Linked DNA regions of Homo sapiens. Changing the gene in region 1 together with any one later gene gives a genetic interaction. Each region holds a gene or a part of one and is shown in the gene's direction. Other genes may lie near its edges.

What was found.
Region 2: changes in SREBF2 (region 1) and TBCB together harm fitness more than expected from each alone (negative genetic interaction), as found in Homo sapiens cells (one large-scale study listed by BioGRID).
Region 3: changes in SREBF2 (region 1) and PES1 together harm fitness less than expected from each alone (positive genetic interaction), as found in Homo sapiens cells (one large-scale study listed by BioGRID).
Region 4: changes in SREBF2 (region 1) and ATAD1 together harm fitness less than expected from each alone (positive genetic interaction), as found in Homo sapiens cells (one large-scale study listed by BioGRID).
Region 5: changes in SREBF2 (region 1) and CEP135 together harm fitness less than expected from each alone (positive genetic interaction), as found in Homo sapiens cells (one large-scale study listed by BioGRID).
Region 6: changes in SREBF2 (region 1) and MFN2 together harm fitness more than expected from each alone (negative genetic interaction), as found in Homo sapiens cells (one large-scale study listed by BioGRID).
Region 7: changes in SREBF2 (region 1) and FIS1 together harm fitness less than expected from each alone (positive genetic interaction), as found in Homo sapiens cells (one large-scale study listed by BioGRID).

The regions. Positions count from the first base shown.
Region 1 is NC_000022.11:41,863,795-41,868,273, forward strand, and holds part of SREBF2 (sterol regulatory element-binding protein 2), read left to right. Parts: intron 1-3,036; coding exon 3,037-3,486; intron 3,487-4,479.
Region 2 is NC_000019.10:36,117,726-36,122,204, forward strand, and holds part of TBCB (tubulin-folding cofactor B), read left to right. Parts: intron 1-2,984; coding exon 2,985-3,081; intron 3,082-3,801; coding exon 3,802-3,993; exon of another isoform or gene 3,994-4,448; intron 4,449-4,479.
Region 3 is NC_000022.11:30,579,018-30,582,889, reverse strand, and holds part of PES1 (pescadillo homolog), read left to right. Parts: intron 1-1,245; coding exon 1,246-1,362; intron 1,363-1,481; coding exon 1,482-1,556; intron 1,557-1,788; coding exon 1,789-1,878; intron 1,879-2,188; coding exon 2,189-2,319; intron 2,320-2,711; coding exon 2,712-2,837; intron 2,838-2,954; coding exon 2,955-3,139; intron 3,140-3,586; coding exon 3,587-3,753; intron 3,754-3,872. UniProt on the Homo sapiens protein: Component of the PeBoW complex, which is required for maturation of 28S and 5.8S ribosomal RNAs and formation of the 60S ribosome.
Region 4 is NC_000010.11:87,786,498-87,790,976, reverse strand, and holds part of ATAD1 (outer mitochondrial transmembrane helix translocase), read left to right. Parts: intron 1-546; coding exon 547-667; intron 668-1,847; exon of another isoform or gene 1,848-1,912; coding exon of another isoform or gene 1,913-1,937; intron 1,938-4,479. UniProt on the Homo sapiens protein: Outer mitochondrial translocase required to remove mislocalized tail-anchored transmembrane proteins on mitochondria.
Region 5 is NC_000004.12:56,010,700-56,015,178, forward strand, and holds part of CEP135 (centrosomal protein of 135 kDa), read left to right. Parts: intron 1-712; coding exon 713-823; intron 824-1,100; coding exon 1,101-1,286; intron 1,287-4,479. UniProt on the Homo sapiens protein: Centrosomal microtubule-binding protein involved in centriole biogenesis. Acts as a scaffolding protein during early centriole biogenesis.
Region 6 is NC_000001.11:12,007,382-12,011,860, forward strand, and holds part of MFN2 (mitofusin-2), read left to right. Parts: intron 1-2,210; coding exon 2,211-2,345; intron 2,346-4,114; coding exon 4,115-4,184; 3' UTR 4,185-4,479. UniProt on the Homo sapiens protein: Mitochondrial outer membrane GTPase that mediates mitochondrial clustering and fusion. Mitochondria are highly dynamic organelles, and their morphology is determined by the equilibrium between mitochondrial fusion and fission events.
Region 7 is NC_000007.14:101,238,297-101,242,385, reverse strand, and holds the end of FIS1 (mitochondrial fission 1 protein), read left to right. Parts: intron 1-1,479; coding exon 1,480-1,556; intron 1,557-2,138; coding exon 2,139-2,244; intron 2,245-2,482; coding exon 2,483-2,580; 3' UTR 2,581-2,914; downstream 2,915-4,089. UniProt on the Homo sapiens protein: Involved in the fragmentation of the mitochondrial network and its perinuclear clustering. Plays a minor role in the recruitment and association of the fission mediator dynamin-related protein 1 (DNM1L) to the mitochondrial surface and mitochondrial fission.

The DNA.
Region 1 (4,479 bases):
ATGCAAAGCTCCAGTTATCCCATATGGAGACTACACTAGAAAGCCCCAGCAGCTTTATTTATTTACATTTATTTATTTATCTATCTATTTATTTATTTATTTTTTGGGACGGAGTCTTGCTCTGTTCCCTAGGCTGGAGTACAGTGACGCAGTCATCTCGGCTTACTGCAACCTCTGCCTCCTGGGTTCAAGCGATTCTCCTGCCTCAGCCTCCCGAGTAGCTGGGATTACAGGCACCCACCACCATGCCTGGCTAATTTTTGTAGTAGACAGGGGTTTTCACCATGTTTGTCAGGCTGGTCTCGAACTCCTGACTTCAGGTGATCCACCTGCCTTGGCCTCCCAAAGTGCTGGGATTACAAGCATAAGCCACCACCCCTGGCCTATTTACATTTAATTATGATTTATTTTTCCTATCCTTCTGCAAGCATATATATATATATATATATATATATATATATATATATACACACACACACACACACACACAAAATATCAAAATATATATATATATGTATATATATATATATTTTTTTTTTTTTTTGAGACTGAGTCTCGCTCTGTTGCCCAGGCTGGAGTGCAGTGGCACGATCTCTGCTCACTGCAAGCTCTGCCTCCCGGGTTCACTCCATTCTCCTGACTCAGCCTCCCGAGTAGCTTGGACTACAGGCGCCCACCACCACGCCCAGCTAATTTTTTGTATTTTTAGTAGAGACGGGGTTTCACCGTGTTAGCCAGGATGGTCTCGATCTCCTGACCTTGTGATCCGCACGCCTTGGCCTCCCAAAGTGCTGGGATTATAGGCGTGAGTCACCGCGCCCGGCCCAAAAAATCTTTGTGTTTTTTTGTTTGTTTGTTTTGTGTTCAGAGAAGGGATCTGGCTAGGTGCCCTGGCTCATGCCTGTAGTCCCAGCACTTTGGGAGGCCAAACCGAGAGGTTGCTTTTCAGGAGTTTGAGACCAGCCTGGGCAACATGGTGAAATCTCGTCTCTACAGAAAATACAAAAATTAGCCGGGCATGGTTGGCGCACACCTGTGGTCCCAGCTACTCAGGAGGCTGATGTGGAAGGATCGCTTGAGCCTGGGAGGTGGAGGCTGCAGTGAGCTGAAATTGCAACACTGCACTCCAACCTGGGTGACAGAGCAATACCCTATCTCAAAAAAAAGAGAGACAGAGTCTCGCTGTGTTGCCCAGGCTGTTCTCAAACTCCTGACCTCAAGTGACCCTCCCACCTTGGCCTCACAATGCACTGGGATTACAGGCATGAGCCACCACAACCGGTCTCAGCAGCTTTCTGTTTGTCAGATATACAAATATACCCCAGGCTCCAGGCCCCCACATCCCCCAAAAAACACACACACACACACACACACAGCATCAGAGACCTGAGAAGGACATCTTGGTGGAGGTTTGGGGGAATGGAGATGGTTCCTTTTATTTTTTTATAGTGGTGGTGTGGTGGTTTTTGTTGTTTTGGTGTCTAAATCAGAGCATCACATGGCCTTGAAGGTTTGGAAAGGAGGGGCCATAGTTCAAGAACAAGCAGTAGCTTCTTGGGAACGTATTGGAGAGAGAAAAGAGAAAAGAATATGGACAATGTAGAGAATTGTAGGTCTGAAACTATCTGGGACAAAGCTGAGGCTCCTGACTTCTATAGGGACCAGTCATATGAAAAAGAAGGGAGTCGTGAGAGATGATGGGGTAGTTGTGGGTTAAGTTGGGTTTTGGAAAGCCTTTGGGAAGATTGACCAGGGAAGAGGCCCTGGAAGTAGGCTTGAGACCCTTTGGGCTGGGAATTTAAGGGTCCCAGCTACTTGGAACATGATCTAGAAAGGGAAGCGAGGTCTCCAGGTGGACAAATCCCTTTGGACCCAAGACTCCTTGCCCAGAGAAAAGGGGCACAACCAGACAAGGGCTAGCATGGGCCCTGGGAAGCACGGAGTTCAGGGTGGGGCAGGCTTGCTGTGTCCTGGCCTGGCAACATACCTGCACTGTGTTGTGGTAGAAGAACACAAAGCTGGGAGGCAGAGAACTGGTTCTAATCCTAGCTGTACCCTGACAAGCTGTGTGACCTTGGCCAAGTTACTTTCCTCTCCTGGACTTCATATATGGTTTTTCCATTCTTTGCATCCCTGAAGCTCCATGACTTAGGGGCCATCAACTTGGTTGTCCCTGAGTGTTTCCAAGAATACCAACAGTGCCCAGGGTTTTACTCAGCTTGGAGAGGAGGCCTAGAGCCTCCCTGTGGTGAGGAGGAAAGAGGTTAGAGCAAGTTTGGGTCTGCAGTGCTAGGATTAGAGGTGGCCTCACAAGCCAAAACCGCTATACTCACAGCCTTAGGACAGTGACTCCCTACTCGCTGCCTCAGTGTTTCCAGCTGTAAAAAAGGACCCTTGGTACCTTCGACAGAACAGCACCCATCTAGTACAAAGGTAGTTCCTTTTATGATCAAAACAATCAGGAAAAAGAGAGAGGCTGGGTGCGGTGGCTCACACCTGTAATCCCAGCACTTTGGGAGGCTGAGGTGGGTGGATCACCTAAGGTCAGGAGTTCGAGACCCACCTATCAATATGGTGAAACCCTGTCTCTACTAAAATTACAAAAATTAGCCGGGCATGGTGCCGTGCACCTATAGTCCCAGCTACTCAGGAGGCTGAGGCGGGAGAATCGCTTGAACCCAGGAGGCAGAGGTTGAAGTAAGACAAGTTCGCGCCACTGCACTCCATCCAGCGTGGGCGATAGAGGAAGACTCCGTCTCAAAAAGAAAAAAGAAAGAAAATGAGAGAAAGGGCCTGGAGGTGAGTGTGAGGAGGGAAAAGAACATCAAACAGATAAAGTCCTGTCCTGTTGTCCTGGGACCTTGGGCAGCCATCTTGGCCCAGATGATCCCCACAAGAAAGAGGTAAGGGTTTCCTGACCCATTTCTGCCATGGTCTTAGGAAAGTCATTGAGTTTTCATGCCTTAGTTTCTTAAGCAAGTTTGAAAGTTCACTTTTTGGATAGCAATAAAATTACTCCTTTTCTTTTGTTCACAGAGATGCTGCAATTTGTCAGTAATCAAGTGGGAGAGTTCCCTGACTTGTTTTCAGAACAGCTGTGTAGCTCCTTTCCTGGCAGTGGTGGTAGTGGTAGCAGCAGCGGCAGCAGTGGCAGCAGCAGCAGCAGCAGCAATGGCAGGGGCAGCAGCAGCGGAGCTGTGGACCCTTCAGTGCAACGGTCATTCACCCAGGTCACATTACCTTCCTTCTCTCCCTCGGCGGCCTCCCCACAGGCTCCAACTCTGCAAGTCAAGGTTTCTCCCACCTCAGTTCCCACCACACCCAGGGCAACTCCTATTCTTCAGCCCCGCCCCCAGCCCCAGCCTCAACCTCAAACTCAGCTGCAACAACAGACGGTAATGATCACGCCAACATTCAGCACCACTCCGCAGACGAGGATCATCCAGCAGCCTTTGATATACCAGAATGCAGCTACTAGCTTTCAAGGTGATTCAGAAGTTAGAATGGTAGTGGTTGGTTGGTTCCAATGTTTATGTGCCAGTTTGCAGACACTGTAAATATTTCTGTCGTCTTCAGGAATGGCAGGTATATCAATATGGTCCTGTCTGAATGAGGTTCTGGTAACTGGCAATAAGAACTGGTACAGGAGCATGTCACATTCTGCAGCTTCAAATACCTTAATATCTATTGCGCCTAATTCAAAAATACTTGGTTAAAAAATCCAGCAAGCGGCCGGGCGCGGTGGCTCACGCCTGTAATCCCAGCACTTTGGGAGGCCAAGGCGGGCGGATCACGAGGTCAGGAGATTGAGACCATCCTGGCTAACTCAGTGAAACCCCATCTCTACTAAAAAATAGAAAAAATTAGCCGGGCATGGTGGCGGGCGCCTGTAGTCCCAGCTACTCGGGAGGCTGAGGCAGGAGAATGGCGTGAACCCGGGAGGCAGAGCTTGCAGTGAGCAGAGATCGTGCCACTGCACTCCAGCCTAGGCAACAGAGCGAGACTCCCATCTTAAAAAGAAAAAAAAAAATCCAGCAAGCATAGTAGACACAGGGCCATTCTGATAACTAGTGGTGGAGACTTGAATAAGGCTTGAAATTGGCTAGGCGGCAGCCAGATCTCAGCTGCCACAGTTGAGAACTATTCATTCAGCAAACATCTGAGCATCCACTATGGTGATGAATATGACTTTTAATATAGGTGCAGCAGCTTCAAGTAGCAAGCCTCATGCTGGGCCCTTAGTATGTGTTGAGGGAATGGATGACTGAAAGGGGCCTGTTCTTTCTGTGATGTGCTGCATCCCAGTGCCTTTTCATCATATTTCCCTCTGACTCTGTGGGGAGCCCAGGGTAAGATTAGTATTGCTTTGAATTTCAAAGAATCTTATAGTTCTTCAATGGAGTTCAAGAATTGGGACAGGTGGGGGAATGTAAAGGCAAAAAGCTGAGACAGTCCTCCCAAAGTGCACTTGCCGTCCAG
Region 2 (4,479 bases), on another chromosome or scaffold:
GCAGAAGAGAAAATTTAGCTTCAGGGTGGAGTTTATTTATTTATTTTTTATTTTTTTTGAGACAGAGTCTTGCTCTGTCTCCCAGGCTGGCGTGCAGTGGCATGATCTCGGCTCACTGCAACCTCCGCCTCCCCGGTTCAAGCGATTCTCCTGCCTCAGCCTCCCGAGTAGGTGGGATTACAGATGCCCGCCACTACACCAGGGTAATTTTTGTATTTTTAGTAGAGACGGGGTTTCACCATGTTAGTCAGACTGGTCTCGAACTCCTGACCTCAGGTAATCCGCCCACCTCGGCCTCCCAAAGTGCTGGGATTACAGGCATGAGCCACCGCACCCGGCCCAGAATCTACTTTCTTAAGGATGAACTGTCAGTAGCATTTTGGCCCCAGTCTACATGACTCTAGAGAGAACTGCTTCTTTTTTCTCTCGTTGATTAACTGTTCATTCCCCATCTGTGTTGTGCCAGGGGTTTCATTATGACTGCATCTGAGAAGTTCTAGTGTATGAGGCAGATGTTGGCTAAATGGCCAGAGGACTGAATGTGAAGGGTCAGGGGAGACAAGGGTTGTGTAGGAGATCATGAAGCTGGGAGACCCTATCCTGGGGTACCTGATGCATCAGTGACGTCTGGGAGGACATCCTGGAGGTGGTGCTGCTGGAGCAGAGACGAGAAGAATAAAAAGAATTGGTCGGGCATGGTGGTTCACGCCTGTAATCCCAGTGCCTTGGGAGGCTGAGGTGGACAGATCACTTAAGGTCAGGAGTTCGAGACGGTGAAACCCCGTCTCTCCTAAAAATACAGAAATTAGCTGGGCGTGGTGGCAGATGCCTGTAATCCTAGCTACTCAGGAGGCTGAGGCAGGAGGATCACTTGAACCCAGGAGCTGGAAGTTGCAGTGAGCTGAGATCACACCACTGCACTCCAGTTTGGATGATAGAGTGAGATCCTATCTTTAAAAAAAAAAAAAAAAAAAAGGTTAACTGAAGATGGGGAAGGGGTGCCCTAGGAGTGGGGCACAACCCAGCAAACACTCCAAGGTGGGAGGGAGCGCGGTGGGGATTAAGACAGGCCACTTCTGTGGCCAAACACTGTGGAAGCTGGGGAGGACCCTGACCTGGCTCAGGTGTTCACAGGCCCCCTCTGGCTGTGTGTGGGGAACAGGTGGTGGAGGACAGGAAGAGTAGGGAGACCAGGAAGGGGCTGCTGTGAGAGTCCTGATGAGGGGACGAGGTCTGGAGCTGTGGGTCAGGCCTCTGCTGGGTGCACAGGACTGAGCCTTTGGGCCACCCTGGGCAGCTGAAGCTAAGGGGTGCGGGTGTTCATAGGCACCTCATAGGCAGTGGCATCTTTGAGCAGGTTTCATAACAGGCGGTTCAGGTACACACAGACCTCCCAGGCCACTCAAGGAAGGTGTTCCAGAGTGGAGCCACTGGGGAATTTTTACATTTTCTAAAATTCTTTTTCTCTTTATAAATATCACCCATATTCATTGTTTAAAATAACAGAACTTCAAATTTGTGAAAATTCTCAACAGAAATTCTCAGTGACGCTTCATCCGGAGGTAAAGGCCATTCCTATTTTGCCATGTTAGCCCAGTGGCTTAGGCCAGACACCTCAGGGTGTTCCTTGGGCCCGCTCTCTCCCTCACCCCCACATCCACTCTCATCAAATCCTCTCGGCTCCACCTACAAAAACTTCCCTGACCCTGGTCCAGCCTCCATCCTTCCCCCAACCTCGCCATCCCGGCAGCTTCCTCCCTGGCCTCCCCGCTCCCCATCTCAGCCAGAGGGAGCCTGGGACCACCTGAGTCAGGCCAGGGCCCTCCTAGCTCAGAGCCCTGCCCTGGTGGCACTTCGCTCCAGATAAAAACCAAAGTCTAGGCCAGGTGCGGTGGATCGTGCCTGTAATCCCACCCAGTACATTGGGAGGCTGAGGTGGGAAGATCACTTGAGGTCAGGAGTTCTAGACCAGCCTGACCAGCATGGCAAAATGTCGTCTCTACTTAAAAATACAAAAATTAGCCGGGTGTGGTGGTGTGTGCCTATAGTTTCAGCTGCCCGGGAGGCTGAGGCAGGAGAATCACTTGAATTTGCAGTGAGGCAGAGGTTTCCGTGAGCTGAGATCACACCACCACACTCCAGCCTGGGTGACAGAGCGAGACTCCGTCAAAAAAAAAAAAAAAACCCAAAGTCTCCAGCAGTCCCTTGTGTCTTCCACTCTCCCTCTGGCTCGCTCCACCCCACCCGCACCACCCACTCTAGAGCGTGAAGGACATTTCTACCTCTGGCCGTCTGCACCTGCCGTTCTTGCTCATCTTTCCAGCCTTGGCTGAAACATCCCCTCTTTTGGGAAGCCTACCCTCCCATGCTCCTTAAGCCTCTTCCCTGTCATATTTTTCTCCATAGCCATCCTCCAGTGTTTCATAGGTACCTGTTCCTTTGTTTGTGGTTGGCCTTCTCCCTGCACAATGAGCACAGCCTGAGGGCAGAGTGCGTCTGTGTTTACACTGAGTCCCCAGCATGAGGCCCAGCTGGGCCCCTGGGAGCTCGGAAACCAATGAATGAATGAATAGTGGGGGCAGAACAGGAAGAGATGCTCTGGGGCCTGAGGTTGGGGCCAGCTTAGGAGAGTCCCAGAGGCCCATCGAGGAGATGCGCTGTGCACAGGGCTGTGGGCAAGGCCTGAGCTCTGCCGGTTGGACTCTGTGACTTTGGGGCCCTTGGCGATGTTGATGCCAGCAAGCGGGGAACTTCTGGGGACAGAGGCAGCCTCTGGGAGCTTGGATGGGGGTGAGGAAGGGGAGGTGGCCAGTGTACGTAGCTACTTCTCCCTTCCGCTGGGCTCAGGAGAGAAGAGAAGGCTGCAGTACAGGCGAGGGAGGGAGATGCGTTTTTCCCAGATGGAGACACTGAAGTCCCTGCACCCAGCACCCAGGCCTCCCTGGCCAGACCCTGATCCCCACGGAGCCCCTCCCCTCACACAGGTCATTGACCACAGTGGCGCCCGCCTTGGTGAGTATGAGGACGTGTCCCGGGTGGAGAAGTACACGATCTCACAAGAAGCCTACGACCAGAGGCAAGGTACGGGCAGGTGGGCGTCGAGGGGTGCGTGGGGGCCAGAGGGAGTATGTGCAGGTATGAGGGCGGGCAGGTTAGACAGGGCCCCTGCAGGGAGGCCAGTGGTGTAGACGGGGGGCCGAGAGCTTGGGAGGATATAGGGGTGAGGCTGGGAGTGGGGACAGACGGAGGCCTGGGGTGGGAATGAGGGCCGGGAGGTGTCAGGGGTATGGGCAGTCAGACGTGGTCGGGGGAGGGCTGGGAAAGTGGAGGGAGTTGAGGGGTAGGTGTGGGGGCTGGGTGTTGTCAGGGTCAGATGGGGGCATGGGGCGGTCGGACGGGGTGTGGAGGGCAGGACAGGTGGAATGCGAGTGGACAGGGTGGCGGTCAGTGAGGGCGCCTGGGACGGATCGAGTGTTGGGGGAGACCGGGGGCCTCAGGGCCGGAGGAGGGCGGAGGAGGAAGGCGGATGATGAAGGCAGATGTGCGCTGAAGGGGTGAGAGACCATGGGTCCTGTAGTGAGGGGTGCAGGCGGCACCCCTTCCATTTACGATTGTGGAGTTGGGGGGCCTAGGAGTCCTGGGAGAGGCTAAGGCTGTGGTGGGAGACCTGGGGCTTGGGTGACAGCCCTTTGTCACCTGGAAGAGAGAGTTCCTCCGTGAACGTGGGCCCCTCGTGGGTGGAGCGTCATCCTGTTAGGCCCGGCCGACACCCCAACTGACCCCAGCCCCCTCTGCCCACAGACACGGTCCGCTCTTTCCTGAAGCGCAGCAAGCTCGGCCGGTACAACGAGGAGGAGCGGGCTCAGCAGGAGGCCGAGGCCGCCCAGCGCCTGGCCGAGGAGAAGGCCCAGGCCAGCTCCATCCCCGTGGGCAGCCGCTGTGAGGTGCGGGCGGCGGGACAATCCCCTCGCCGGGGCACCGTCATGTATGTAGGTGCGTGGCTCGCGGGCCCGGTCCCGGGCTCCAGGGCTCCAAGGCCGGGAGGAAATGTTGGGGGCACAGTGGAGCCTCGGAGACCACGCTCTGCCTAGGGGCGCGGGGTTGGGGGGGACTCGAAACGATCTCAGTCCCTGGAGGTGACGGAACCATCTGCCGACACTGACGGCCCAGAGTGTTTGTGGAGGGAAGTGGGAGGCGCAGGCGGAGTGATCTGTCCAGCGAGGGAGGAAGCAGAAGCCAGAGGCACGCGGCCTGTGCGCTTCGAAGCGTGGGGCAGTGTCAGTCGCGGTGGGGAAACGGGCGGCGTGACCAAGGCAGGAGTGAGGGAACACAGGGGGCTGTGTGAGCCCAGAGGAAGCACCTGGAGGCTGGGAGCATCTGAAGGAAAGGAGGCAGCAGCCAGGTGAAAAGGGAGGAAGAGTTCCCGCCAGAAGGAGTAGCGGGTGCAGGTGAGCAGAGCGCAGGAGGTCCACCTGGGGA
Region 3 (3,872 bases), about 11 Mb from region 1:
CATAGCTGTGGAACTCAGGCTGGTTGTAGGGGCGGGGTCTCCCTGCTCAGTGCTGGGCTGTGGGAAATGGGGTTGGTCCCCAGATGTGCCTGTCAGGGGCCCTCACAGATTCTCATGGAAGGATGGCGGTGTGAGTGAGGGAACAGGCAGGGCTTCTCTTGGCCCTATGTGCTCTCACAGCACAGGTCACTGTCTGGCAGCAGAATAGCGGAACAGCTAAGAGTCATGGGCACACCCGGCACCCATGGTGATCACTACTGATTTTCACGTTGCTCGGAACATCCTGCCGCGTCCTGGGGGCCAAATGGGCTGGCTCGGCCTCCATGGTTTTAGGGGGCAGAACTGCTCAAGAGTTGTGATTCTGTCTGGGCCTCAGTTCTTTGCCCTGTTTTGCCCTATTAACTGCTCCAGGGCAAAGATGAGCCTTCTGTGTCCCCTGCTGCTGGGATGACAGCTCTGTGCCTTTTCCCTGAGCAAAAAGTAGTTTTGTCTGCTGGCCATTTCCCAAGAGCTCCCTGGGGGCTGAGCCAGGCCAGCTGCCAGCCTACCCTGGCCCCTCGGGTCATGCCTCTGGACCTGGCTTGGGCCCAAGGAGGGAGTCACTCAATTCTGAGTGTCCATCCCAAGGTTCAGAGGTGGGACTCAGTGGGCGGCCTGAGCCCCATGCTTCCCCCGCCCCCGCTGGGCCTGGCCTTCCCAAGGCACCTTAGTCAGCCAAGGTTTTGCCAGCCCCTCTGGGCTAGAGACAGCGCTGGGAGCACCACCCTCTGGTGCTCACACGCTAGCCCAGCAGCAGACATGCAGCAAAGATTGTAGACTAGGTGATGTAGAAGGCAGGAGCTCTGGCCAGGTCGGAAAGTGGTCTGTCCGAGTCTGAGCTAGACCTGAAGGAAGTGGGAGAGCCGGAGCAGGGAGGGGAGGGCCAGCCAGTCTTCGGAGCAGCAGGGACCAGGGTCCCTTTTCTCACTCTTTTATGGGGGTCTGGCACTGACTTCCAGGATGCGTCTAACCCTTGGGACCCCTATCCAGAGCCTCACTTGTGGCTGGGAACACTTGTGGCCGGAACGCCCCTGGTGGGAAGATCCATGCCACCCCTTCCCTAGGGCAGCGCCTTAAGGGCAGAGCCTTCTTGAGGAGCTTGGGGTCTTTGGGTAGGTCAGACACCCTCCACTCTGTGGGTTGTCTGTCCCTCCTTTGCCCCCATCCCTGCACCCACACTGCTCATGCATCTCTTGTGTTCCCCAGCACCCGACAGACGTGGACTACAGGGTCATGGCCACCTTCACCGAGTTCTACACCACGCTGCTGGGCTTTGTCAACTTCCGCCTTTACCAGTTGCTCAACCTCCACTATCCCCCGAAGGTAGGACCCCAGCCCAGTGCCTTCTGCTCGCCGTGCAGGGGCCACAGCCCTTCTCTGTCCACACAGAGGCGAGGGGCTGTGGCTGTCCTCTGCCTCCTGACCTTCCCTTTGCCTACTAGCTCGAGGGTCAGGCCCAAGCAGAGGCAAAGGCCGGTGAGGGCACCTACGCGTTGGACTCCGAGAGTTGTATGGAGGTGAGAGGCTCCAGGAGCATCATCCGGCATCTCCCAAGGGAGTGGTCTCTGTCCCCAACACCTCTGGGGGTCTGGTTCAGAGTGGGGGTGGTTATGGCTAGGTGGGTGGTCTCAGCCTGCCCTTGGAACCCACACCTGCTGATGCCCAGGACTGTCACTGCTGCCCCTCCCCACCCTGGCCACATGCCCGCATGAGGTCCCCCACTGCAAGCAGCCCCCTTCTCTCCTGTAGAAACTGGCAGCCCTCAGTGCCAGCCTGGCCCGCGTGGTGGTGCCTGCCACAGAGGAGGAGGCCGAGGTGGATGAGTTTCCCACCGATGGGGTGAGCACTGCACTGCCTTCTGGCAGGAGGGCTGGGAGGGGTCGTGTGGGGGGTTTCCCAGCTTAGGGACATTTGCATCCTATAATTAGGTGTTATTTGATGGTCAAAGCAACTGAGCAGAAGAATGGGCTGAATTGTCATCAGAGTTTACATAGGAGGCAACAGAGCTCAGGAGTGGGGCCTTGGAGTTTCCTTTGAAGGCAGGATCCAGGATCTAGAAGGAAGCTGGAGTGGACGTTATCTCCAGCCCTGGCCCTCCAGTGGGGGTGGGCAGCCCTGGTGGTGCGAGGCCTGGCCCCTTTCTCAACAGGAGATGTCAGCGCAGGAGGAAGACCGCAGGAAGGAGCTGGAGGCGCAGGAGAAGCACAAGAAGCTTTTTGAGGGCCTGAAGTTCTTCCTGAACCGAGAGGTGCCCCGTGAGGCCCTGGCCTTCATCATCAGGTAGGGAGGCTCAAGGGCCCGCTGACAGCATTGGTTCGGCCATGCTCTGGTCTGGGTCCTGCCCTGGTGCCCATCGGTAACATTGGGATGGTGTCAGTTTCCACTTCTTATGAAACAGTGTGTGGAAAGTGCTCGGCACCGCACTGAGCACATAGGAAGTGCTCAGCAGAGGGCGGAACTGCCGTCATTTTATTACTAGCTTAGCACAGAAGGATGGGCAGTGGGCAGATCTCTGCTGAGCCAGGATTGAAGGATCCTGGGGTGAGGAGGGGGTAATTGTGTCCTAAGAGGGTGAGTTTATGGGCTGGGTGGCCAGCAGGTCCCAGGGAGCTGAGTCTCAGGACAGGCAGCTCATGTCTGTGTACCCGTGTGGGCTCTCCCTGTCCCTGTAGGAGTTTTGGTGGGGAAGTGTCCTGGGACAAATCTTTGTGCATTGGGGCCACCTATGACGTCACAGACTCCCGCATCACCCATCAGATTGTCGACCGGCCTGGGCAGCAGACCTCAGTCATTGGCAGGTAGGCCCTCAAGGGTCCTCGTCCGGATTTCTGGGTATCCTGTCTCAAAGGCCCTGCGATGCAGCAGGACCCTGAGTTGCCCTCTGTGACTCGTTTTTGCCTGCCACTCTGCGCCAGGTGCTACGTGCAGCCCCAGTGGGTGTTTGACTCAGTGAACGCCAGGCTCCTTCTCCCCGTGGCAGAGTACTTCTCTGGGGTGCAGCTGCCCCCACACCTTTCACCCTTTGTGACCGAGAAGGAAGGAGATTACGTTCCACCTGAGAAGCTGAAGCTGCTGGCTCTGCAGCGGGGAGAGGACCCAGGTGAGCGGGATGGGACTGGGCTGGCCTTGACCCCTGGGCCCACGCTGGCTGTTTCCCTTAGCTGCCAAGGTGGAAAGCTCCAGGGAACAGGCAGTAGGAGCAGAAAGCCCTTTGAAGTCACCTGTAGAATAAGGCTTAGGAGAAGGGACATCTACCTCCTGGGGTCAGGTGTTATTTGACGTTCAGGATGACTGAGCAGAAGAACATGCTGCATTGTCATCAGAGTTTACATTGGAGGCGACAGAGCTCAGGACTGGGGGTCTTGGAATTTCCTCTGATGGCAGCTGGGCTGTGGGGAGGTGCAAGAGAGGGCCACAATTGGGACATCCCTGAACTGCCCATGGCTAAAGACGGCAGGGTCAGAGAGGATGGGGCCTGGGCCTGTTGTCACCCTGCCAGAGAGACAGTAGATTCCCAGGGCATTCAGAGGACATTGGCTTTCTCTAGGAAACCTGAATGAGTCAGAAGAGGAGGAGGAAGAGGACGACAACAACGAAGGTGATGGTGATGAAGAGGGAGAAAATGAGGAGGAGGAGGAAGATGCAGAGGCTGGTTCAGAAAAGGAGGAAGAGGCCCGGCTGGCAGCCCTGGAAGAGCAGAGGATGGAGGGGAAGGTAGGGGGAGCTGCAATGCGGGGCTTGGCCTGGGAAGCAGCCCTGCTTGGTGCCTGCTCTGGCCTAGAAGGTCAGGAGCCAGAGGACTGTGGAGGTCGGGAGAACCTGCCCCCATAAGC
Region 4 (4,479 bases), on another chromosome or scaffold:
CCTGACCTCAAGTGATCCGCTCACCTTGGCCTCCCAAAGTGCTGGATTACAGGCGTGAGCGACCACGCCTGGTCCATAGGTTTACTTTTGATGGATAAAATTCAGAAGCTATGTTTTGTAAGACCTTATTTCTAAAATTAATTTCTGTGATGCTTGACAACATCCTGTATAAAATAGGTACATTCCTGATGAGCTCTTTCCCATCAGCCAGTGCTAAATTATGTCTCAGCTGGTTCTCAGTATTCTTGCAGCAGAGTATTTTCTCCTTACAAGTGGAATGAATTTAGCTTATTAGACCCTTGCAGATTTTTGAGTACCTGACTTACAGATTTTTAATAGTAGATAGTTGACTATTAAATTCCTTTTTCCAGTTTCATAGCAGTTTATTTCATTACTGCTTGGAAAAGTCTTTACTTATGTTAATATATGATTTTAACTTATTTATGTATAATCATCAGATTAACATTTGTAATTTTGGGAGCGTTCTTTTTACTTTAGTGAGTGTACATTTGTAGTAAAATTCATGTTGACCTTAACTTTTGCCAGGTTACTTGGAGTGATATAGCAGGTTTAGATGATGTCATTACGGATCTGAAAGACACAGTCATCTTACCTATCAAAAAGAAACATTTGTTTGAGAATTCCAGGCTTCTGCAGCCTCCAAAAGGTATGGTAAAGGTATATATTCGCCTAAAGCATTAAAATCCTAGAAAACATTGAAACTTTCTGCCATTGTAGAACTAGTTTTTGTGAAATCAGATTCTCAAGAGGATGCTGAGATCTATGTGAACAGTTTCTTAAAATAATTGCTCATTCTTCAGCTTCTGAAATTGAGATAAACTTTTTCCTGTATTTACATGTTAAAATACTTGTTAAAATAATCTCCTTCAATTTCTTTTCTCTTACTTCCAAGTAAATTAAAATTTGGAAAATCAAGATTAAAGAAAGATTCAAAGTCATAATACAAGTTTTTTGTTTTGTTTTGTTTTGTTTTCAAGCCAAGACATTTTTTTCTTGTTTCACAGCTCCAACGATCTTATTTTTAGAATGTAATGATTCTTTTTCAGGAAATATTTATCTGCAGATGAACTAGAAATTAAATATTTAACTTTGATGGAGATGTTTGCTTATTCAAAATCACTTTGAAAGTCTTGGAACTCAAGAATTGAATATGCTCATAACTGCATCATTAAGTGTAATTCTTGTTCATTCAAATCTTTCTTTTTTTTTCTTTTCTCTCTTTTCTTTTCTTTTTGAGATGGGGTCTCACTGTGTCACCCAAGTTGAAATGCAGTGGCATGATCTTGGCTCACTGCAACTTCCGCCTCCCAGGCTCAAGTGATCCTCCCACCTGAGCCTCCTGAGTAGCTGGGACCACAGGCATGTGCCACCACGCCTGGCTCTTTTTTTATATTTTTGGTAATGATGGTGTTTCACCATGTTGCTCAGGCTGGTCTTGAACTCCTGAGTTCAAGTTCTTCACCTGCGTTGGCCTCCTAGAGTGCTGGGATTACAGGCATGAGCCATTGTGCCCAGCTAGTGCACATATTTCTGTCATGCTTAAGGCTTGTTAAAGGTGATTCAGATGGAGTGTAAATAATTTACAGTGAGAGATATATGTGTGTGTTACTATGGCGTTCAGATCCAAATTTCACGAGATAGCTTATTTTCATCTAGCAGAAACTCTTATCTAATGCATTGCCAAAACTATATGGGTTTGATATGTTGTTAGTCAAGACTTAAATTATTAGTCACATTGATTTTTCAAAAAAGTGGATCTTTAAAAATATCAAAATAGCATTATGTATGTTTAAATTATAATGCTTATAATCTTTCTAAATTTGCAGCTATATCAATAAAGTGCATTAATTTACATATCAAAGGTAACTGAAGCCTGTACCTGTGCATTTTTATGAACTACATAATTTTTGTTTCTGGTAAGTGGAGGATGACAGTTAACAGCAAAAATGACATGTTCTTTTATTATTAAAACAACAAAGCTATTAGGTATTTCTTTTTGTTTTCTGAAATAACAACACTGCTTATAGTTTTTCCTAACAAAACACTCAGTTTATTGTGATTTCCCCCCTGCCGCAAAAAAAACTTTGAATGATTATTTGAGCCCAGATCAAAAATGTATGGCTATAGTTGGATTAGTTAAGTCTTTACTACCCTCTTCCAGGTTATTTGTAGTCTGAACAAAAAATGACTTTTCTGCATTTTTAGTTCTCAATTGGACAATGCTAGTGAATTTAGGAAAGTAAAATACCTTTTATATGCTGTTGGAGAAAGCTTCTTTTTTTATCAGTGTTATCTTAGACCAGGTAATTGGGTGATTTCTCCAGTTGGACTTGGTTTAAAGACCCATTTAGCAGAGTGGATACCAAATTATGCAGGGAATACTTCAAAAGTTATATGTAAATTTGCTTCTTATTTGAAAGCATTGTCCAATTTAAAAGTTACATGAATATTTTCTGATTATATAAAGTTTTGCTATTTGAACTTTTTCACCTTTATGTCTGGACAATTTTTAATCAAGAATAACAGTTTTGAAGATCATTAATTTACTTTTTGACCCTCAATATAAATTGGATATTGGTGTATAGAAGCAGAGTGTAAAATCAGATGCATCCTTGTTTGTTCCATTTTGGGACTGGAACTAGGTTACCTAGGTTAGAGTTATTGACAATTTTATGTTATCCTTAGACAGTTTATTGCTATCTGAGCTGAAAGTGATCACTGCTTCACACAGACTACAAAAAGATAATTGGAGAGTGACTGCAGTATCCATGCAGTGCATGAGGTCATATGTAACTATTGTGTATAGATACAAAGTTGAAGCTAATGCACACCATGATGCCGCTAATTGGTGACAGGGAAATGGGGGCACACATAAGATATTGACGGTTATATTTAAAAAGTGATTTTTTTCCCTCAAACGTCTAAAAATTTACAACAGTTAAAATTCCAACAAAATCCATCTGAATACCATATGGCTTCCTCTGTAAACTTTCTGAATTCTGTATTGTTATTTTGGTATATAAATTTTATTACATTTGTGAATGTTATACTTCATGTTTTGGTGCATTCTTTAAATTGTGAGTAACCTAAGGAAAAAAATAATTTTAAAAATAGATTTTCTGTTATAAAGACCCATATTCTTCTCAAGTACTTTATATTTAAGTAGATTTAATTTATATAGATGTGTATTTTTGCACCATTTGGACAAATTTTATGTTAAAGCCAATAAACAGTTGTCCAAAAAAGAAAAATAGTCACTAATAAGGTGGAATATTTGTCACAAATGAGGATTATCTCAAATTTAGATTTGTGTATCCCAATACTTTTTTTGTTCTTATCCTTTTTTTTGGAGACAGAGTCTTACTGTCACCAGGCTGGAGTGTGTAACCATAGCCCACTGCTGCAGCCTCCTGGGCTCAAATGATCCTCCTGCCTCTGGGTCCTGAGTAGCTGGAACTGCAAGGCATGTACCACCATGCCTGCCTAATGTTTTAATTTTTTGTAGAGACAGGGTCTCACTTTGTGGCCCAGGTTGGTCTTGAATTCCTGGGCTCGTTATCCTCCTGCCTCAGCATCCCAAAGTGTTGAGATTACAGGTGTGAACCACTGTGCCCATCCTCTTCCTAAATCTTTTATTTGCATATAGCACTTACTAAGTAAAGCCATTACCAAAAACATCCGTCTTAAAAAGGAGTTTAAATTTTTAAGCCTCTATAAAGCTTAAGATAATAAACACAGTTTTTATTTGTTGAAGTTGGTTATAAAAGTATCAGATTAAGCTCAAAGAACTAATTTAAAGGTTGCAAAGCTAATAATAAAAGCTAAATGCCTCACATTCATTGCAGTACTCATTTGTCACCCATCGTAATTATTATCACTGTGGAGACCATTTTAGGAAAGTATATAGAAAAGGTGCCACTCTAAATAACGTTATCTCTAGACTCACTGATAATTTGTCAGACAAGCCAATCTGAATTTTAGTGTAACTTTTTTTTTTTTTTGAGACGGAGTCTCGCCCTGTTGCCCACCCTGGAGTGCAATGGCGCAATCTCGGCTCACTGCAACCTCTGCCTCCCGGGTTTAAGAGATTCTTCTAACTCAGCCTCCCCAGTAGCTGGGATTACAGGCGTGCACCACCATGCCTGGCTAATTTTTTATATTTTGGTAGAGTCGGGGTTTCACCGTATTAGCCAGGATGGTCTCGATCTCCTCACCTCGTGATCTGCCCACCTCGCCCTCCCAAAGTGCTGGGATTACAGGCGTGAGCCACAGGAATGGGGATAAAGCAGTTTACTGAATAACTATAAGGCTAACACACTTATGTAACTACTACCCAGGTCAAGAAGGGAATATTGACAGCTTGTGTACCTTCTCTGTTACAGCCTGTCCCCAGAAAGTTAGGATAGCCACAAGCTTTCTTTGCATATTGAATCTTTAGGCACTCCAGACACTCATAAC
Region 5 (4,479 bases), on another chromosome or scaffold:
AAGGTGTTAGTTCTGTTCGTGCTGGTTTCTTAAAAGATTGTACTGAGAAAACCAGTGATTTTACTGTTTTAAACATCTTACGTTTTTAAAAAATTATTTTCCGTATTATTCAGCATAAAGCATATTGATGAAATATGAATGTTTTTTAATGTCAACCCCTGACCATAGCTAGCCTTTAGTGTAAATGCCAGATACATGATCAGGACTATTATGGGAAATGTGTGATAAAGTTTGGTTAAAAAGTCAGTATCAGACCAGGCGTGGTAGCTCACGCCTATAATCCCAGCACTTTCGGAGACCAAAGTGGGAGGATTGCTTGAGCCCAGGAGTTTGAGACCAGGCTGGACATCATAGTGAGACCTCATCTCAGAAAATTAAAAAAAAAAATTAGCTGGTATGGTGACATGTGCCTGTGGTCTCAGCTACTCGGAGGGCTGAAGTGGAAGGATTGCTTGAGCCCAGAAGGTCGAGGCTGCAGTGAGCTGTGATCACGCCATTGCACTTCAGTCTGGGCGACAGAATGAGACTCTGTCTGAAATATTTTAAAAGGCAAGATCAGCCAGGAAAAATATGTGAAAATAACACTTAGGAACAGTTTTCCTTTTGCCCTACTCTATCTTATTCTCCAATTCCAAAGGAATTATTTGAATATAAATAAAATTTATTTGGTGTTGTGTTCATTTTAGATTGTCTTTAATTTTCTGATTTGTAGGAAATCTCATTGGAATTGGAAGCAGCAGTGCAAGAAAAAGAAGAAATGAAGAGCAGAGTTCATAAATACATAACAGAGGTGTCACGATGGGAGAGCTTAATGGCTGCCAAGGTGAAAAATATTATTTAGGTTGGATTTAAGACTGAGGTTTTTTTTTTTTTTAACTTTTTCATGTGCCTCTACAATTAGATATTAAACATTTTAAAGTAGAGATCTTGTCTACTGCCTTTTTCTATTTTTCCCATAGATTTTAGTGTGGTACCTGCACAGATATCTAATGCTTCCTAAATTAGAACAGAATGCTGTGTATGTGTATGTGTTTATGACATAGGTGTTCCAGGAAGTGACAATTACTAATTTAGAAACAATTTTATTGTGATTAAACCAGGAAAAAGAAAATCAAGATTTGTTAGATAGATTTCAGATGCTTCATAACCGTGCTGAAGACTGGGAGGTCAAAGCCCATCAAGCTGAGGGAGAAAGCAGCTCAGTTCGACTGGAACTTCTTTCTATTGACACTGAGAGGAGACATCTTCGAGAAAGAGTGGAGCTATTAGAAAAAGAAATTCAAGAGGTAATATATTTATTTGTTTTGTAAAGATGTTATTTAGTGAAACAGAAAACATTCAAAGATACTTTATTTATTTATTTATTTATTTTTTTTGAGATGAAGTCTGACTCTGTTGCCCAGGCTGGAGTGCAATGGCACGATCTTTGCTTACTGCACCCACCTCCTGGGTTCAAGCGATTCTTCTGTCTCAGCCTCCTGAGTAGCTGGGATTATAGGAGTGTGCCACCACACCTGGCCAATTTTTTGTAGTTTTAGTAGAGATGGGGTTTCACCGTGTTGGCCAGGCTGCTCTCGAACTCCTGACCTTGAGTGATCCACCTGCCTCAGCCTCCCAAAGTGCTGGGATTACAGGCATGAGCCACCGCACCCGGCCTCAAAGATACTTTATTGACCTGAGGTCGTAAACATTGATAAAATCAAGTTCAGTGGTAAATTTCTGTCATTCTCATAATTTGCATAGAAGCCCATTACTTTTTTTTGTAGTAAAAGATACATACATCAAATTTCCCATTTTAACTATTTTTAAGTAGACAGTTCTGTGGCATTAGTACATTCACAATGTTGTGTAACTATCACCATTATTTGTCATTCTGCTTTCTGTCACTATGAATTCGATTACTCTAGATACCTCATATAGTGGAATCACACAATGTTTGTCCTTTTGTGACTGATTTCACTTAGCCTTAAGGTTTACTTTACCTCAAGGTTCATCCATATTGTGTAGCATGTGTCAGAATTTCATCCTTTTTTAAGGCTGAATAACATTTCATTGTATGTATGTACCACATTTTTGTTTAGCCATTCCTCTGTCAATGGACATTTGATTTGTTTCTACCTTTTGGCTGTTGTGAATAATGCTGCTATGAACATGAGTATACAAATATATCTGTTCGGGTGCTTGCTTTCAGTTCTTTTGGGTATATACCCAGAAGTGGAATTACTGGATCATATGATAATTCTGTGTTTAATTTTTTGAGGAATAGCCATGTGGTTTTTCCGTAGGTGCTACACCATTTTACATTTCTACCAGCAATGCACGAGGGTTCCAGTTGCTCCATATCCTTGCCAACACTTGTAATTTTTTTATTTTTTATAAGAGCCGTCATAATGGGAATAGAGCGGTATCTCGTGGTTCTGATTTGCATTTCCTTAATGGTTAGTGATGTTGAGCATCTTTTCATTTGTTTATTGACGATTTGTGTATCTTCTTTGGAGACATGCTTATTCAAATCCTTTGTTCATTTTTTAATCAGATTGTTTTAAATTGTTGTTGTAGAAGTTCTTTACATATTCTGGAGATTAATACCTTAGTGTATACGTGATTTGCAAATATTTTCTCCCATTGTGTGGGTTGCCTTTTCAACAGTTTTTGATGTACAGAAGTTTTCAATTTAAATGAAGTCCAATTTTTTTTTTCCTTTGATGCCTATACTTGTGGTGTCATATCCAAGAAATTATTGTTAACTGCAATGTCATAAAGCTTTTCCCCTATGTTTTCTAATAAGAGTTTTATAGTTTTAGCTCATATATTCAGGTCTTTGTTTCATTTTGAGTTAATTTTTACAAATGATATAAGAGCCCAGCATCATTTTTTTGCATGTGGATTTAAATAAGATTTTGTCATAAAGACAGTCTGATAAAAATCTCATAATAAAAAATTTGAGTTCAGTTAAAATATAGGGACCCTGGGTTAGATTGATATACAATAGTTGGCCATTATTGTCATTTTTGTTTTGTTTTGTTTGTATAGTTTTATAATTTTTATCTTTCAGGAGAAAGTATTGACTATCTGTAGCAGATAGAATTATAGCCTCCAGAAAGATATATTGAGCCCCAGTCTCTTATTTGGAAAAAGTGTCTTTGCAGATGGAATCAAGTTAAAATGAGGTCATAGCGGATTAGGGTTAGACCCTAAGACCAATGGACTGATGTCTTTATAGGACAATGGATATTTGGACACAGAAAACACAGGAGAGAACACCACGTAAAGATGGAGGCAAAGATTAGAGTGATATGTGTAGAAGTCAAGGAGTGTCAAGGACTGCCAGTAGCCATCAGAAACTAGGAGAGAGGCAAAGAACAGATTCTGCTTCAGAATCTCCAGAAGGAACCAAACCTGCCAACACCTGAATTTTGGACTTCCAGCTTACCGAATTGTGAGAGAATAATTTCTATTTTTTTAGGCCACACAATTTGTGGCAATTTGTTACAGCTGCCCTAGGAAACTAATACAGATTATAGCACCAGAAAGTGGGTTGCTGCTACAACAAACACCTGAAAATATGAAAGTGGCTTTGGAATTGGGTAATGAGTAGAGACTGAAAGAGTTTTGAAGTGCTTGACAGAAAAAGCCCAGATTGCCTTGAAGAGATCATTGGTAGAAATAGGGACATGAAAGGCAATTGTGATGAAGACTCAGAAGAGATGAGAGCTGTAAAGAAAACTTCTATTATTTACAGAATACATATGTTGTCATGGATGGATTTTGCCAGAAATATGAATGTTTCCTCTGGTGATGTCTCAGACAGAGTTGAGAAAAGATGTTACTTGTTATAAAGTGACAGAGAACTTGGCTAAGTTACGGTCTACTGTTGGGAGAAAAGTAGAATTTGTAAGGGATGAACTCGGATATTTAGCTGAGGAGATTTCCAAGCAAAGTGCGGAAGAGACATCCTGGTTTCTCCTTGTTACTTACAGTAAAATATGAGAGGAAAGAGAGAAATGGAGCAAGGAACTGAAAAGCAAAAAAGAAAGCAAGACATGAAGCCAGGTGTGGTAGCTGACACCTGTAATCCTAGTACTTTGGAAGGTCAGGGCAGGCAGATCGCTCAAGCAATCCACCTGTGTCCACCAAAAAACTACGCTCAGGAGTTCAAGACCAGCCTGGACAACATGGCAAAACCCCATCTCTACAAAAAATACAAATAATTAGCCAAACATGGTGGCACGTGGCTGTAGTCCCAGCTACTTGGGGGGCTGAGCCCAGGAGGTCAAGGCTGCAGTGAGCCGAGATCATGCCACTGCACTCCAGCCTGGGTGACAAAGTAAGACCTTGTCTCAAAAAAAAGGAAAAAAAAATAAACCAGGACTTGATGATTTTGGAAAATTCTTAGCCTATCCAGATAGTGTGCTCCAGAGTATGGCTAGAAAACCTCTTGGTGAAGAGATTAGATATGTGACTCATGAATCCAATCAA
Region 6 (4,479 bases), on another chromosome or scaffold:
GTGTGCAGGGCCAGCTTTGAGGCCAGTCATGGGGAGAGGGGTCTCCCAGGGACACTTTGCGTCTTGGGCTGGGACGGGGTAGGCCTCTGGGCCCCTTGGTGAGGAAGAAATGGGAAGGCAAGAGATATTCCTAGTAGGAGTTTTAGAGGTTGCCTTGAAGAGCTTGGGCTGTGGATGTAGTTTTGAAGTTTTTGAACCCAGCCTGATCTTCGTGCACATCTTAGGTCAGGTGGGAATCTATTGCCTAATCTGGGGTGGTGGGGATGAATATCCTCGCTTCCTTTTTTTTATTGTGTGTGGCAGACCCTTTGCTCTAGACATTTTGCACCTAATTATTTCTCTGACTCTTGGAGGTAGATGTTGTCTTATAGCCATCTCCTTTTTCTTTCTTTCTTTTTTTTTTAATTGATCATTCTTGGGTGTTTTGGCAGGGTCATAGGACAATAGTGGAGGGAAGGTCAGCAGATAAACAAGTGAACAAAGGTCTCTGGTTTTCCTAGGCAGAGGACCCTGGGGCCTTCCGCAGTGTTTGTGTCCCTGGGTACTTGAGATTAGGGAGTGGTGATGACTCTTGACAAGCATGCTGCCTTCAAGCATCTGTTTAACAAAGCACACCTTGCACCGCCCTTAATCCATTTAACCCTGAGTGGACACAGCACATGTTTCAGAGAGCACCAGGTTGGGGGTAAGGTCATAGATCAACAGCATCCCAAGGCAGAAGAATTTTTCTTAGTACAGAACAAAATGGAGTCTCCTATGTCTACTTCTTTCTACACAGACACAGCAACAATCTGATTTCTCTATCTTTTCCCCACATTTCCCCCTTTTCTATTCGACAAAACCGCCATCGTCACCATGGCCCGTTCTCAATGAGCTGTTGGGTACACCTCCCAGACGGGGTGGTGGCCGGGCAGAGGGGCTCCTCACTTCCCAGAAGGGGTGGTTGGGCAGAGGCGCCCCCCACCTCCCGGATGGGGCGGCGGCCGGGCGGAGGCGCCCCCACCTCCCTCCCGGACGGGGTGGCTGGCCGGGCGGGGGCTGACCCCCCCCACCTCCCTCCCGGACGGGGCGGCTGGCCGGGCGGGGACTGACCCCCCACCTCCCGGACGGGGCGGCTGCTAGGCGGAGACGCTTACTTCCCAGACGGGGGCGGCTGCCTGGCGGAGGGGCTCCTCACTTCTCAGACGGGGCGGCTGCCGGGCAGAGACGCTCCTCACCTCCTAGACGGGGTTGTGGCTGGGCAGAGGCGCTCCTCACATCCCAGACGGGGTGGTGGGGCAGAGGCGCTCCCCACTTCCTAGATGGGATGGCGGCCGGGAAGAGGTGCTCCTCACTTCCCAGAGTGGGCAGCCGGGCAGAGGGGCTCCTCACATCCCAGACGATGGGCGGCCAGGCAGAGACGCTCCTCACTTCTCAGACGGGGTGGCGGCCGGGCAGAGGCTGCAATCTCGGCACTTTGGGAGGCCAAGGCAGGCGGCTGGGAGGTGGAGGTTGTAGCGAGCTGAGATCATGCCACTGCCTGGGCAACATTGAGCACTGAGTGAACGAGACTCCATCTGCAATCCCGGCACCTCGGGAGGCCGAGGCTGGCAGATCACTGCCGGTTAGGAGCTGGAGACCAGCGCGGCCAACACAGCGAAACCCCATCTCCACCAAAAAAATACGAAAACCAGTCAGGCGTGGCGGCGCGCGCCTGCAGTCGCAGGCACTGGGCAGGTTGAGGCAGGAGAATCAGGCAGGGAGGTTGCAGTGAGCAGAGATGGCGGCAGTACAGTCCAGCTTCGGCTCGGCATCAGAGGGAGACCGTGGAAAGAGAGGGAGAGGGAGACCGTGGGGAGAGGGAGAGGGAGCGGGAGAGGGAGAGGGCCATCTCCTTTTTCAAAATCAAGAAACTGAGATTTGAAAAATAGTGACGTGTCCTCTGCTACTCGGCTGATGAGCAGCAGAGTCAGGATCTCTTGTGCCCAAACCAGGGTGCACAGCTCTGTGCTGTTGCTTCTCAGGCCGTGGTGATGCTGAGTGTGTTTGGTTGTTATGATTATTCAGTCTCAGCAGGGTGTAGGAGATTCTGCCAAACCAGGCCTGGCTCAGGGCAGAGCTGCTGGCAGGGATATAGACAGGCCCAGCTGCTCCCTACTGTGGGTGGGCTAAGCCACCAGTGGCATCTTGCTCCACACACCCCAACTGGGTCCCTTCTCTCTCCTCCCCAGGGAACTGTCTGGGACCTTTGCTCATCTGTGTCAGCAAGTTGACGTCACCCGGGAGAACCTGGAGCAGGAAATTGCCGCCATGAACAAGAAAATTGAGGTTCTTGACTCACTTCAGAGCAAAGCAAAGCTGCTCAGGTGAGGCTGGCCCGTGTGGCCAAAGGTTAGGGCTCCAGGGTGCAGCCCAGGCACACTGGGGCTCAGCTGCTGGGCTTGCGTCTTGGGTGTGGACACAAATTTTTCTGGTGGGGATTTAGCTCATTCGTGTTAGATGTGTACCATGGGCTGGGCACGGTGGCTGACGCCTATAATCCCAGCACTTTGGGAGGCTGAGGCAGGTAGATCACCTGAGGTCAGGAGTTTGAGACTAGCCTGACCAACATGGTGAAACCCCGTCTCTACTAAAAATACAAAGATTAGCTGGTCGTGGTGGTGTGTGCTTGTAATCCCAGCCACTCGACAGGCTGAGGCAGGAGAATGGCTTGAACCCAGAAGGCGGAGGTTGCAGTGAGCCGAGATTATGCCATTGCACTCCAGCCTGGGCGACAAGAGCAAAACTCTGTCTCAAAAAGAAAAAAAAAATGGATGTGTACCACGTACCTCATGGATGCCAGATGGTGCTGGAGGCTCAACAAGACACAGCGTCGCTGCCTTCAAGGCACTTGCAGTTGAAGGCATGATGGCATCACAGTACTGCGAGACTGCAGTTCACAGCGCCCTGTGCTGAACCGCAGGGCCTACAGCGCTTAACATGTGCTATTTCACTCAGTCTTCCCTATTTCTCCATTTTCTACATAGAAATGTTGGGGAACTTGTCTGGCATCTCAAAAAATGGCCAGGCTAGGAGGGGAGCCCAGGTGTACTTGGCTCCAGCAGCCCCCGCACTCTGATTCTCCTTACCTGCCACTCTTTGGACCCATGAAGAGGGCATAGCCCCCCATTTACCCACAGAGAAGCTGGTTACTTGGCTGGGGACTGGCAGAGCTGGGATTGGAACTCAGATCTCCATGGGGTCTCTGTGGAGCTTTCATTAATAATTTGCTGGAAAGAACATCAGTCTGAGGAGTCTGGAGTCCTGGGTTCTCTCCAGCCACTCATGTTTGGCCCAAGCTCTTAACTCTCCTGTGTCTCATTATTTTCATCTGTAAAATGGGAGTAAGATTTCATGACACAGCTGCATGACTGAATGTAAAAGTGCCCTGCAAAAGTCCTCGGCCTGCCCAGCTCATGATAACATCAGCACACGGGGACCCTGCAGAAGTCCTCGGCCTGCCTAGCCCATGATAGCATCAGCACACGGGGACCCTGCACTTCCTGCCCTCGCCCCTGACGTCAGAGTCTGCAGGGTGGCAGAGCCAGAGGGGAGATGGATCAGAGGGTGTCAGCTCCAACCCTCACCGGATCACTGGGCTTTCCCTGCCCTCGACTGCGGATGTGCCCCCCCCGCACCCCCACCTGGGGACAGCTGCTTCCTAGGGACACACTGCTTGCCCTCTGGGGACTCTCAGAAAGGGGGAATGGGGGGAACTGCTGCTTGTCAGCCACAGTGACACAGCTGAACCTGGAAAGGGTCTCCTGTCAGCACCTCAACCCCTTGCTTGGCAAGCAGGGAAACTGAGTTCCCGACAGCTCAGGGACTTGCACATGGTCCTGGGTGAAGGAAACACAGGGCTTGAGAATCAGAAAAGCCTAACTTGTAGCTCCCTGGCTTATTAGCCGTGTGGCCTTGGGAAGTTATTTAACCCCTCTGGGCCTCCTTTTCCCCATCTGTGAGACAGGGATAAACACGATTGTTGGAGGATGATGTAAGGGTGTGTGTCAAGCGTCCTTAGGATGGTGCCTGGCGGGTAGTCCTAATACTGCCTATCATCAGCTATCATGGTTACAAAAGAACCATTTCTTTGCAGGAATAAAGCCGGTTGGTTGGACAGTGAGCTCAACATGTTCACACACCAGTACCTGCAGCCCAGCAGATAGTGGGCACCTGAGGCGGAGTCTGCGTGGAGAGGGGCGGTGCTGCCAGCCCTAAGTGCCATGTGGGCTCCCCCAGGGGCACGTGTGGCTCCTGCCCCCTGGCCACTGCCAAGAGAATGAAGCACCCAGTCTCGTACCATTTTGAGCCCTCCAGCACTACTTATTTTCCCCCACCTTTGCCTGCTGTTGCTGGAAGAGCTGGCTCATACCCCCAAAGGACACTTTCAGCGACAGCTATGGACAGCATGGTACCAAGGAGTTAAGTTGAGGCTTTTTCCAGCTTTCTCTGGTTCATTTG
Region 7 (4,089 bases), on another chromosome or scaffold:
GGTGTAGAAGAAACAGCCTCTCTAAGTGTTGCCAGTCTAGTTGAGAAAACAGTACAGACAGGAAGATTTATAAACACCTGCAGAATTATTTAGCAACAAATTCTAGTGCATACAGTACAGTTATCCTCTGGGAAGTCTCTGAATTAAGAAAGTCAGGTGGGGCCAGGCACTGTGGCTCATGCCTGTAATCTCAGCACTTTGGGAGGCCAAGGCCAGAGGATGGCTTGAAGTCAGGAATTTGAGACCACCTGGCCTGTCTGTGTAACAAAGATGTTTAAATTAGCCAGGCATGGTGGTGTGTGCTTATAGTCCCAGCTACTTGGGAGGCTGAGGCAGGAGGATCACTGACCCCAGGAGTTTGAGGCTGCAGTGAGCCATGGACATGCTACTGTGCTCCAGACTGGAGTGACAGAGCGAGACCCTGTCTCCGTTTTTTGTTTTTTTTTTCCCGAGACTGAGTGTGCAATGGTGCAATCTTGGCTCACCGCAACCTCTGCCTACCGCATTCAAGCAATTCTGCTGCCCCAGCCTCCCGAACAGCTGGGATTACAGGCATGTGCCAACACGCCCGGCTAATTTTGTATTTTTAGTAGAGACGGGGTTTCTCCATGTTGGTCAGGCTGGTCTCAAACTCCCGACCTCAGGTGATCCGCCCGGCTCAGCTTCCCAAAGTGCTGGGATTATAGTCATGAGCTACGGCTCACGGCCCACCCTGTCTCTTTAAAAAAAAAAAAAAAAAAAAAAAAAAGGAAGGAAGACAAAGTCAGGTGGGGTCTTCGGGGAAGGCTGATTGAAGGTGAGTTTTGAGCTGATTTTTTTAAAGGGGGAGGGAGTCCTAACTTTTTTTTTTTTAAACAATAATTGTACAGCAGGCAGTTTAGTTAAAACCACAACGGCAGCACTTTGGGAGGCCAGGGCAGGCAGATCACTTGAGGTCAGGAGTTTGAGACCAGCCTGGCCAACATGGTGAAACTCCATCTCTACTGAAAATACAAAAATTAGCCAGGCGTGGTGGCGGGCACCTGTAATTCCAGCTGCTCGGGAAACCGAGGCAGGAGAATCGCTTGAACCCAGGAGGCGAAGGTTGCAGTGAGCCGAGATCACGCCATTGCACCGCAGCCTGGGCGACGAGTGAAACTCCGTCTGAAAAAAAATACCACAGCAGATGCCAAAACTGAGTCACGCTGCCTTTGGCTTCTCCAGGGCCCCGATTTCCTCATTTCAGTTGGATGGACCAGTTGACTGTAATACTGATAAAAGGCATGTTCTGTCACTGGGGTGTTGGCACAGCTGGGGTTCACCCTGTCCCAGAGCTCTGGCTAGGGTGCTGGGAGTGACTGGAGCTGAAAGGGAGGCTTAGGACTGTGACCCTCCCAGGATCACAGAGGCATTCAGAGAGTGGAAGGGGCCTCTGGGACACAGTATTAGGAAAGTATTAGGAAAGAAGCATTTCTCACCCTCTTCTCTGCCCCTCCCCAGAGCTGCTGCCCAAAGGGAGCAAGGAGGAACAGCGGGATTACGTCTTCTACCTGGCCGTGGGGAACTACCGGCTCAAGGTGAGGTGGGGACCCCGTTCCCTTCACCCTCCTCTGGGGCTGCAGGACCTTCTTACTGTGTCCTCCAGGGTGGAGCCCTGGACAGCGGGAAGGCTGAAGGGGTGCAGAGGTGCAGAGCGGTGTCAGATGAGGACTCCGAGGGAAGATCAGAGTGGCGAGGGGGTGGGGAGGAAGGTGACGTCAAGAGACTGGGTGCAGGCCCAAGCCTTGCGCTGTTATCTCCCGCAGAGTTGGGGTTGTTTGTGGACTCTACTCCGTGGGGTGGGGCTGGAGGGAGGGAGTGGGTGGAGGTCGAGGGAGGAGCCCCCAGGGCTGAAGAAGGGAAGGCCCTTCACGTGGGCAGGGGGAGTGGTGGATACTGAGGTGTAGCCGGCCCAGTGGCTCACGCCTGTAATCCCGGCTACTCAGGAGGCTGAGGCGGGAGGACTGCTTGAGCCTGGGAGTTTGAGGTTGCAGTGGGCTGTGATTGCGACGCTGCCGTCCAGCGTGGGCAACAGAGCAAGACCCCGTCTCTTATTAAAAAACAAACAAACAAAAAAACACTGCGGTGTGTATGACGCGTGCGCGTTTCCCCGAGCGCAGGAATACGAGAAGGCCTTAAAGTACGTCCGCGGGTTGCTGCAGACAGAGCCCCAGAACAACCAGGCCAAGGAACTGGAGCGGCTCATTGACAAGGCCATGAAGAAAGGTGACAGCCTCGGCCCCTTTGTTCAGCCCCGCTCTTCCCCACGCCTGGGCACTTTGGTCTCTCTGTAAATGAACCCCTCCAGGCAGCCCCTCAGCCCCACCCCTTCCAGTTCTTAGAGCCCCTTGCCCTGCGACTCCAGGTAGGGGTGTGCCTCTGTTGAGGGGCAGGGCTGGCGGAAGGGGACGGTCAGGGTTTCCGCAGGGGCCGGGCTCCTGACACTGTCCCTTTCCTTCCCCAGATGGACTCGTGGGCATGGCCATCGTGGGAGGCATGGCCCTGGGTGTGGCGGGACTGGCCGGACTCATCGGACTTGCTGTGTCCAAGTCCAAATCCTGAAGGAGACGCGGGAGCCCACGGAGAACGCTCCAGGAGGGCCTGTCCATCCTCGCTGTCCTTTCCCTGTTCTCCCCCTGCCCCCCGTCTCTATCCTCTGTGGCCTTCAGCTAATTTCTGCTCCCCTGAGATTCGTCCTTCAGCCCCATCATGTGCTTTGGGATGAGTGTAAATAAAACGGGGCTGTGGCTTGGGAACCCCCGTGTCTGCGTTGAGGGGAGGGGTGGGTTCTGAACGCTGGGCACAGGGGGCGGAGACGTCACTCCTGGTCCTCTCCTGCCCCTGCCCTCCAGGTTGGCACGGGGTTCTTTGTCCACCCCGCAGCCCAGAGCCCACACCCTTCCTTCCTCCCTTTCCTGAAGCCATGTCCTTGAGAGTGCCGGGCAGCTCGGAGACATGGGGCTTTTCCATGGTCCCAGAGTCCTGGGAGAAGGCAGTGACCTGAGCATGGGCGGGCAGAACTTCGGGGCCAGGCCGGGCTTCAGGCCTGCATTCTCCTCTGACCCACTCAGCTACTTCTGTGGAGTTTTCCACAGCAGGCCCCCTTGGCTTCCTCCTCCCCACCCTCCCCTCCCTTTGTCTTCCTGTGGCCTCCCCTTCCTCCTACCTCCTCCTCTGGGGGAGGGGGAGCCCAGTAGGGGAAGGAATCCTGCATCTGGCATGGAGTAGGCGGGGGTCCCGGGAGAGGTCAGAGCCCAGGGAGCCCCAGCTCTCGCCTGTGGGCTGGAAGGTCAGGACTCAGCCCCACCTAGCCAGCTTCGCCCCCTCGTGCCAGGCTCGGCATGGGCCTGTTTTGCTTCACCGCATACCTCTCGTTCCACAGCCCAGGCCAGCACAGGAGTAGGGAGGAGACACCTGAGGGGAGGCCGGAGAAGCCCAGCAGGGCCGTGGGGCCAGGGAGGTGCGCAGCCAGCGCTGATGGCCCCCAGGGACAGAGCCCTAGGGAACCGGAGCAGGAGATGAGAGTGTCTGCTCTGGGACAGGTGCTCTGCACTGGCTCGGGATGGGGACCAGAGGCTGCTAATCCATCATCATTAACGAATAGAGTGGGTGACAGTCCCTGATAACTGGGAACAGGTTGCAGAGCTTAGCCACAGGATCACGCTCCAGGCTGTTGGCCAGCAGGACCAGGCTCGATGCTGAGTCAAAGATCAACTTAGGAGGAAATTTGAGTTTTGGGTGAGAGCGACTCCCTGGTGGCCTCAGCCCTGTGACACTCACATCCAGGACAGTTCCCGGTGCCAAGCGCTGGTTATGTGTGGGGGGCTTGACTCCCTGGTCCCAACGAGGTCTCAGTGTGTTGCCCAGGCTGGTCTTGAACTCCTGAGTTCAAGCAATCGTCTCAGCCCAGCCTCCCAAAGTGGTAGGATTACAGGCGAGAGCCACTGCGCCCGGCCCCTGGTCCCAGTTCTCACCACAGCCCCTGCAGTAAGCAGTCGGGTATGTCACTGACAGAGCAGAAGCTCAGGGGACTAAAACTCCCCGCCTGAGTTCCCTGGTGAATGGATGGTG